Regions from separate parts of the Homo sapiens genome. Here regions 1 and 3 are each linked to region 2. Evidence: fine-mapped expression QTL. A gene starts in region 2. Each other region holds a variant in brackets. All regions are shown on one strand. Distances are between the middles of the regions. Region 1 overlaps LINC01554 (long intergenic non-protein coding RNA 1554). Region 2 holds the start of GLRX (glutaredoxin). Region 3 overlaps LOC124901029 (a long non-coding RNA gene).

Region 1 (2,763 bases), 34 kb after region 2:
ATAATTCTTCCCAATTCTCAAACCAATCTCACTGCATTAATTTCTTTTTATTCTTTTTTTGAGACGGAGTCTTGCTCTGTCAGCCAGGCTGGAGTGCAGTGGCTTGATCTCGGCTCACTGCAAGCTCCACCTTCCGGGTTCACGCCATTCTCCTGCCTCAGCCTCCCGAGTAGCTGGGGACTACAGGCGCCCGCCACCATGCCTGGCTAATTTTTTGTATTTTTAGTAGAAACGGGGTTTCACCATGTTGGCCAGGATGGTCTTGATCTCCTGACCTCATGATCCGCCCGCCCCAGCCTCCCAAAGTGCTGGGATTACAGGCGTGAGCCACCGCACCCAGCCCATTGCAGCAATTTCTACATGCCAAAGCCTTGCCCATGCTTCTTGTTTGATGACATGATATCTTGGGTTTGGTCTTATATCAGCACCCACCACTCTACCCATTGATGCCACTTAATAGATGCTTCTCGACATGCCCACGCAGGCCTCTAGCCACTTAAGGAGAGATTTTCAATTTACAGTGACCCAACCAACCACTCGTTAGATGCTCTGATCTGTTCCTCTCACAATTATTACTTTAATTTGCTGTCCTCTCTCGGGCCGTGAGGCGACAAGCTTGTAGGCTGCAAGGCAGACAGAGTTGAAGATGTATTTAAAAGTGCTTATGCGCTATTAGCAAAACTTACTAAATTCCTGCTGTGTTTAGGGAACTAGACCACAGAGCACTGTGAGCCAACACAGTTCCTGCCTCAGAGAATAGTCACCCAGACAAGATTTTAAAACTTTTCATTAGTTTTACCTGATTGATAAAATTAGAATGGAGAAAATCAGAAAAGTAAAAAACGAAAAAGCAGCTAGTCATAGTCTCACTATCCAAAACCAGTGCTATTCATATTTTGATTTATTGCCTTCTGGTTATTTCTTTATTTATTTTTAGTTTTAAGAAAATTAATACACTTCATTTTTTAGAACAGTTTAAAGTTTATAGTAAAATTGAGCAGCTAGGACAGCTGTTTCCCTCTGCCCTCCTTCCCTGAACATATTCCCTTCCCTATTATTAACATCGTGTAACAAAGAACTTGTATTAGTGCCATATATTTGTTACAATTAGTGAACCAATATTCATACATTATTATTAAATAAAGTCTATCATTTACTTTAAGGTTTATTCTCTGTGTTGTACAGTTCTGTGGGTTTTGACGAATGCAGGTCAGTATCCATCATTTCAGTATCCTACAGAATAGTTTCAGCATTTATCTTTTGTACCGTCAGCTCCTACCATTGTACACTCCTGCCTGCAGCTTTTTTTCTTGTTTCTTTATTTTTCATATGTGAGCCTAACACAAGCCTTCCTTTATGCTATTGTACCCTTCCTCCACATGTTTATAAACTCTTATAAACATCATGGGATACAACATTCTATACTTAACCATGCCCCTAATGTTGGACATTCATGTTGATGACAAGCGTTCAATTATCATATAGGATATTTTAAAATCATTTCATGGAAATAGATTTCCAGGATCTAGATAGCATTCAGGGGAAAAAAATAATTTAGAAAGAAACAGCATTGTGTGGTGTCCCCCAGCACCTCCCAGACAAAAGGCTTTTGTCTGAAGGTTGGAGGCCTGTGCTGTCTTGGCCTAGTGAGTGCCAGTTTCCGCATGGCTGCCCCTCACCCTTGGGAAGGCTATTGGGGGG[T/TGGGGG]GGGCAGTGCTGGCCTGGGTCTTGCTTCCCTGCTCCTGCAGGAAGGTCTGGGCTTCCTCATTCACTCCCTTCTACTCTCATCCATCAGCACCTTCAAACCGAAACCTGGAACTATGGTATTCTCTTTGGCTCTTAGGACGGGTTGGCTTAATGGGGGAAATATTAATAGCACTGGTGTCGGTGGAAGTGACCTTGAGCCATGTAAAAAGATTCTGATAAAACGTGTCACTCTTGTTACCTATCAGGATCAAACTGCATCACGGAAGCTGCACACGATGACACCCTGTCTGGAAAGTTTTTGCCAGAGGGCAAAAGACTGCAAGCAGAATATCCCTTTGCCATTTCTCATGTAAGTGCACACCAGAACTAATAAGAATAATTTGAGAATAAGAGTACTTTCTTTTTTTTTTTTTTTTTTTTTTGCTGTGAAACTGATAACCATAAAATTTGGTATCTAGAGTCCTGGAGTGTAACAGCTCCTTCTCATACATTAGCTTCCATTCATTACCCCACAACAGTTCTGCATGCTAGCTGGCGTTATTGCCACATTACAGTGAGGGGCCTTGGCGTCTTGGGTTCCTGAGAGATGACATTGCCATATGTGGCTCTTCACGACTGTCCCACAGGCCCTCAGCTGGAATGTGGCAGAACTGGGAGCTGAATCCAGGACAGTGGTTTCCTCATCTGCTCTAGCCAGGAGCAGGCCAGGCCACCCTTCTGGACACAGTCTATCCCACGTGGGGACAGACTGGCCAGCCCCAGCCCGTGGGTCTCAACGCGGCCAGAGCTGCTGTGAGAAATCTTGTTTGTTTTAGCCTTTGGAGTCCTGTCTGTTCTCTGACCTCTGACCCAGAACTGTGTGTTCCAACCACTTCCCAGTCTGTTGTCCTGGCTCAAAACAAAGTGAACGAAAGCTCTTTCCTCAAGCCCTGCTCTCATACTCCAGGGCTCTGTGAAAATGAGTGGTATGGGCACATGGCTGGTGAGTCACTGTGGCCCTAAAATGAGCGGGAAAATAGAGGGCAGGTCCGGGCCTCGCAGGGCACTAATGGCAGGGAAGCA
Region 2 (2,763 bases):
CGAACAAACAAAACTAATGCTTGGCTCCCACCTCTGACATTGTGATTTAGTTATTGAGGGGCATAATTTGGGCATAAGGATTGTTTTAAAAGCTCTCTAGGTGATCCTAATGTGCAGCAAAGTTTGGGAACCAATGGCTAAAAGGTCCTCAGGGTGGCAGCCACAGTGGGGCCCGTAGTAGTGTTTGCACTGCCCTTTACACCTCTCAGGGCCTGGGCATCCTATGCAGCTGGTGGTCCCACTAGGCAGCAAGAGCTTCTCTCGTCATTGTGTATACTCCAGGACCTCAGCACACAGCAGTAGGATAACACACTAAGCCCCCTTTCTGCACCAAAATGCTGACTTCTTATTAGAGAGAAGGGGAGAGAAACAACCTCCAATGCTTTATACTCAGAACCCAGAGACAACCTTGTAAGTCAAACTAAAACTGAAATAGGATATGTGCTTGGCCTAACACTGTGCTGTAGAATTCGTGCATCGTAAAAGAGAACTTAGCTGAGCTGGTGGGACATTTCTCATCCCACCTCACAGCAGAACTGATACAGGTGATGTGGCTGGCATCCCTCCTGAAGCCCAGGACGCAAAGCCAAGGATGCTGAAGAGAGGGAAGTCTTTCGGATGGAGGAGAGCAATTTTTAGAGGGTCCCACAGTCTATTCGTAGCAAATGGGACTCTGAGGTCACCTAATCTGGTCTTGCAGCTGGGATCTTTGAGGACTACTGGGGTGGTGACTTGCCCAGGATCACACAGCCAGCCATTATAAGAGCCAGGCCAGAACTCCAGGCTATGATTCCCTACAATGTGGGGCCTGGAAACATCCATAATTAATTTAGAACAAGGGGCAGATAACGGTACATTAGATTTTTCCAGTGGGAGGAATTAGATAAGGAAGAATGAGCAAATTAGAAAAAGAAAGCCTAGAGAAAAGAATGAAGAACATGAATCTCATGTTAAATAACAAACACATCACACCCGGCCCTCCACCCCAGCTTCCACCTCCAGCCCTGCCAACTGAAAACTGTCATTTCCTGGCAGTGCTTAAAACAAAGACTCTAGATAATTCCCCAGGGACTCACCGGCAAGCTGCTGGTCCCACTTACCCTGCCGCACAGCAGACATCAGCTGTACTCCCTCTTCTGCCCCGTGAAGACCTTTGGCTGCAGTGCCGCCGCTCATTCAAGTGACCGAGATCCTCTCTAAGGCGCCCTCCCCCACACCCCCCGCCCCGCACAGCCCTCTGGACGCCTTGAAGTACGGAGCCGCAGCCTTATCCTAAAGAAAGGCACAGCTCTGACAAGAAAAGGCAATCCGGGAGCCTTTCCCTAGCCGTTTAAAATGAAACTCACCGTTCTTGCTCCCGTGAGCTGTTGCAAATAATCTTGAATCTCGTTAGTGTGGTTGGTGGCTGTGATATCGACAAATTCCAGAAGCCCTTGTTTGATGGGCAATTGACTGAGGATCTCTTGGGCCCTCCTGCAGTACGGGCAGGTGGGCTTGATGAACACAACCACCTTCCCAGGCTGGATTTTGCAGTTCACAAACTCTTGAGCCATGCCGATGGGCTGCGGTCTCCCCGGGAAGAATCCTCAGTTGCAGGTATTGCTTGGGGTATTGAGCCCCGACCCAGCCAGTTGGCTCCTATTTAATAAGGAACCTCCCTGGAGGCGGAGTTTGCCTGGTAGCTTGCTCGAGTTTTAAAGGGACAGCTTCGAAGACATTTCCATCTGGTATACTTCACTAGTTAGCAATGCCCAGGAATGCAATACTTGCTATTTAATCATTGGTAGCTATGAAAGACACTCTGGGTATCTTTGTTGTCCTTGGACATTTGGGGAGTGCCTGCCCATTGGCAATGATCAGAGTTTAGTCACCTCTGGGGAAGCATAAAGTGCTTACTCACAAAGGGGCTGAGGAGGCAGTGACTTCTTAGAGCAAATTCTTGTTTTCCCTCTAGGAGATACAGTTGTATTTTAAAATGCAAACAGAATCACTTAAGAAACAGAACACTTGGAAATCTCTTTAGAAGAAGTGAAATTGAAACTGTGACTTTGCACTCCTCATGAAGGTTGCTCTCACAGCATTTTGCTTGGACTGTATGGTGGGTGTTTGTTGTTGTGATCTTTTTAATGGAATTCATTCTCAGTATTTAAAAATCTGGAGGTCTCACAAAACAATTCGGACTTAAAACTTCTCTCTGAAAAGTCAGGTCGGGCAATACAGAGCTTGCACCTTTTAGTGGAAGCTGCTGGGGCTGACAGCTGTTGCCCCCTTTGTATAGGGCAAGTAGTGGCTTTGGTTTGCCACAGGTCCCAACGACAGGCCCATGCCTGAGACACCGGCTTCACCCCATAACCATTTGAGTTGGTAACCCTTGAACAGCAGTTTAATATGGAGGCAAATTCCAACACAATCCTTGATACAAAACTACAGATGAAATGAGAATCTTTTTTTCTGGTTGAGCCTATGTTTGTGACCCTCTGCTTTTAACTGTTTGTGAGGGGAAGTAGTGTTGTAACTCAGACACCACATTCACTTCAAGTGTTATAAGACACGGGTTGTAACAGTAGGAAATCTTTCGCTCTTCCCCAGGGTGCCCATTCTCCTTATCCCGCAAAGCAAAGTCCTCTACTCCTGGGTCTAGTTCCGGCCCCCTCTAGTGTATGGTAGCTTAAATAAACAAATCAAGGAAAAACTATGTCCTTTAAACGTGAATCATCCTTTCCCCAGGAAGTTTTATGGTGAAACCAGAGTATCTTCAAAGAG
Region 3 (2,763 bases), 24 kb after region 2:
AGCAAATATAAACTGCCTTTAGGTTCATATAGTTTGACAAACATGCTTTTCTAACCTGTGGGTCAGATGGAGATGTGGTTCTTTCTTGTTCCCTGCAGACACCCTGGTCTCCCTTTGTATTAGTCCATTTTCACACTGCTATAAAGAATACCTGAGACTGGGTAATTTATTAAAAAAAAAGAGGTTTAATTGATTCACAGTTGAGCATGGCTGGAGAGGCTGCAGGAAACTTACAATCATGGTGAAAGGCAAAGGGGGAAGCAAGGCGTGTCTTACATGGTGGGAGGAGAGAGAGAGACAGCAAGGGAAGGGGACGTGCTACATTTTTAAACCATCAGATCTCATAAGAACTCTCTCACTATCACAAGAACAGCATGGGGGAAACCACGCCCATGATCCAATCACCTCCCACTGGTTCCTCCCTCAACACTTAGGGATTATAATTCAAGATGAGATTTGGATGGGGACAGAAAGCCAAACCATATCACCCTTCTTCTACATATCCAAAATGTTCCCTACCTTTTCAATTCAAGCCATGTGTGAGATTGGGAAAGTTCTCAATGTGCTTCAGTGATCTTATCTGTAAAATGAGCAGCTTGGACTAGATCAATGGTTCCAACTTTAAAAAAAGGAGTAGAATTCTTTGTTCAAACAGAACTTACACTGAACCCCCATAAATAAACAGATAAAACTGTTGCTATTAAAATGTGGGTGGGACCTGGAAGCCTCCTTGGTTGGCCTCAAGGATGGCTCTTGAGGTACCTTCATGAGCCTTTAAGACTCAGATGAACAGCCAGGCCTGGTGGTTCATGCCTGTAATCCCGGCACTTTGGGAGGCCATGGAGGGCGGCTGACCTGAGGTCAGGAGTTCGAGACCAGCCTGGCCAACTTGGCAAAACCTAGTCTCTACTAAAAATACAAAAATTAGCCAGGTGTGGTGGCGGGCACCTGTAGTCCCAGCTACTCAGGAGGCTGAGGCAGGAGAATCTCTTGAACTCGGGAGGTAGAGGTTGCAGTGAGCCGAGATTGCACCACTTCACTCCAGCCTGGGCAACAGAGAGAGACTCCATCTCAAAAAAAAGACTCAGATGAACTATTTCAGAGCCTCAGACCAGATGTTCTCCAAGATCTTTTCCATCTCCCAACATTGCAGTCCTGTTTTTAAGTGCCACATCTTCTGTGAAGCCTTTTTAATACCCTGACTCATGCAGATTGCTTCTTTTTCTGTGCCACTTAGCGTTTGTGACTATGCACACACACTGCCCGTGTTTGTACACTGAACCACGTATGGAGATTGTCTTTCTTTGAAGCTTGTACCTCTATGCATTTCTTTTGGAAACTGACTCAAAACTGACTAGTAAGGTACAGAATGTAACTGAAAGAACTCAGGAAATGGGGAGATAAATTTTGTTCACAGTCCAGGGAAAGGTCTGCCCTCCTGGGGCAAGTCGCCTGTGCTGGCATATGGTGAGCTGCTAGCCCAAAGCAAATAAAATCTGGATAGATATGAAGCATGGGTACCAGGCACAGATGGGCGGCACAGACCTAAGGTCCCCATAATTGGTCCGTCTCCCAGAT[C/CT]TTTTTTTCCTGGTGCTCGTGTTGGCCAAGCTGTGGTAGTTGGAAGGCCATGGAAGATGTTTGCATAGCCTCACCTTTCAGCGTCACTGGGCCAGCCACTGCAGTAGATGGTTAGGTTACTACTAAAGACACCATCAGGGGGAAAAGCCTGGGCTTGTCTCTACTACCCCACCTGCCTTAGTTGTTTTCTTTCCACTGTGGGTCGAGTTCTGCTTTCCTGAATAGCGGGCTTTTTTACTGTCATCCTCAGTCTGGGGTTATGTGTAAACTTTAGGGAGCTTAGAAACATACCTCACACTGGATGTGATTTTTGCAAGACCAGCCATGTTCAGTGGGACCTACCCTAGGGCAGTATGTAGTGAACAGATTCTGGAGGCTCAGGAAGAGACATTATGGCTGGAGCACCACCTAGTGGCAGTGAAGAACAGTGCATGTGATGAACCAATGATCTTCCCAGTGAAGTGTAAATGGGTAAATATTAAGTTAAATCGCTTTCAGAGATTCCCTTTCTCCAAAAACAATCCCATTTAAAATATGCTTTAAAGCAAAAACTATACTGGACATAATTTTTAGTCTTTTACTAATTATTCCAAATATATCAGTGTCATCATAATGAAGACTTATTATAGAGTTCTCAGTGATAAGATGCTTAATATTAGCCTGTAAATGATTGCTATCATTTACAAGAGGAATTAGGAGAAAGAATGTGGCTAATTCAGTGGAAACTCACTTCTGAAAATTATTCAGTTTGCCACAGATCTTTTGGAATATTGAATCTTAGAATCTTTGTGTTGTGAAAAGTCTCAAGGATACACTAGCCCTGTGCTGAACATTTTCTTAGCCATGGAACTCTTTCTTCTAATAAAATCTTATTCTGCCACCTGTATTACCTTCAAACCCTTAGAATGGTCAACAAGGGAAGCCATGCAGTTGTCTATATGTTCGAATTTGAGGTACATATGAGGTATAGCTTATGCTGTGGTCATACTGAGCTTTTCCACAAACCTAATAAAACATATCCAAAAAATTATCACCACTAAAGGAGTCATCTTCAGAGGCAGTACTTTTATGCCAATATAACCACCACTGATCAAGACAATTTGGGGACTTCTCTTTTAAAATTGCCTTTGTATTAGTTTATACTGGTGACATGAAAATCATATTACATTACTTTGGGTCCTACTT

The links.
Region 1: its variant is fine-mapped to the expression of GLRX in whole blood (INTERVAL, PIP above 0.99).
Region 3: its variant is fine-mapped to the expression of GLRX in lung (TOPMed, PIP 0.98).

The regions. Positions count from the first base shown.
Region 1 is chr5:95,854,932-95,857,694 of GRCh38, forward strand. LINC01554 (long intergenic non-protein coding RNA 1554) reads left to right here. Exons shown (of 3, transcript NR_026936.1): 2 at 1,947-2,050. Among named protein-coding and RNA genes, the nearest start is that of LINC01554, 4.1 kb to the left of the region's middle. The variant T/TGGGGG (reference allele first, on the strand shown) is at 1,702.
Region 2 is chr5:95,821,110-95,823,872 of GRCh38, forward strand. It overlaps GLRX (glutaredoxin), which reads right to left and starts at 1,617. Exons shown (of 3, transcript NM_001118890.2): 1 at 1,347-1,617. The coding sequence starts at 1,553. RefSeq lists enhancers at 1-128, 2,045-2,134, 2,365-2,763.
Region 3 is chr5:95,845,195-95,847,957 of GRCh38, forward strand. The region is part of intron 1 of LOC124901029 (a long non-coding RNA gene); the gene reads right to left. All of the region lies in intron 2 of LOC102724720 (a long non-coding RNA gene), which reads left to right. Among named protein-coding and RNA genes, the nearest start is that of LINC01554, 5.7 kb to the right of the region's middle. RefSeq lists an enhancer at 1,870-1,919. The variant C/CT (reference allele first, on the strand shown) is at 1,579.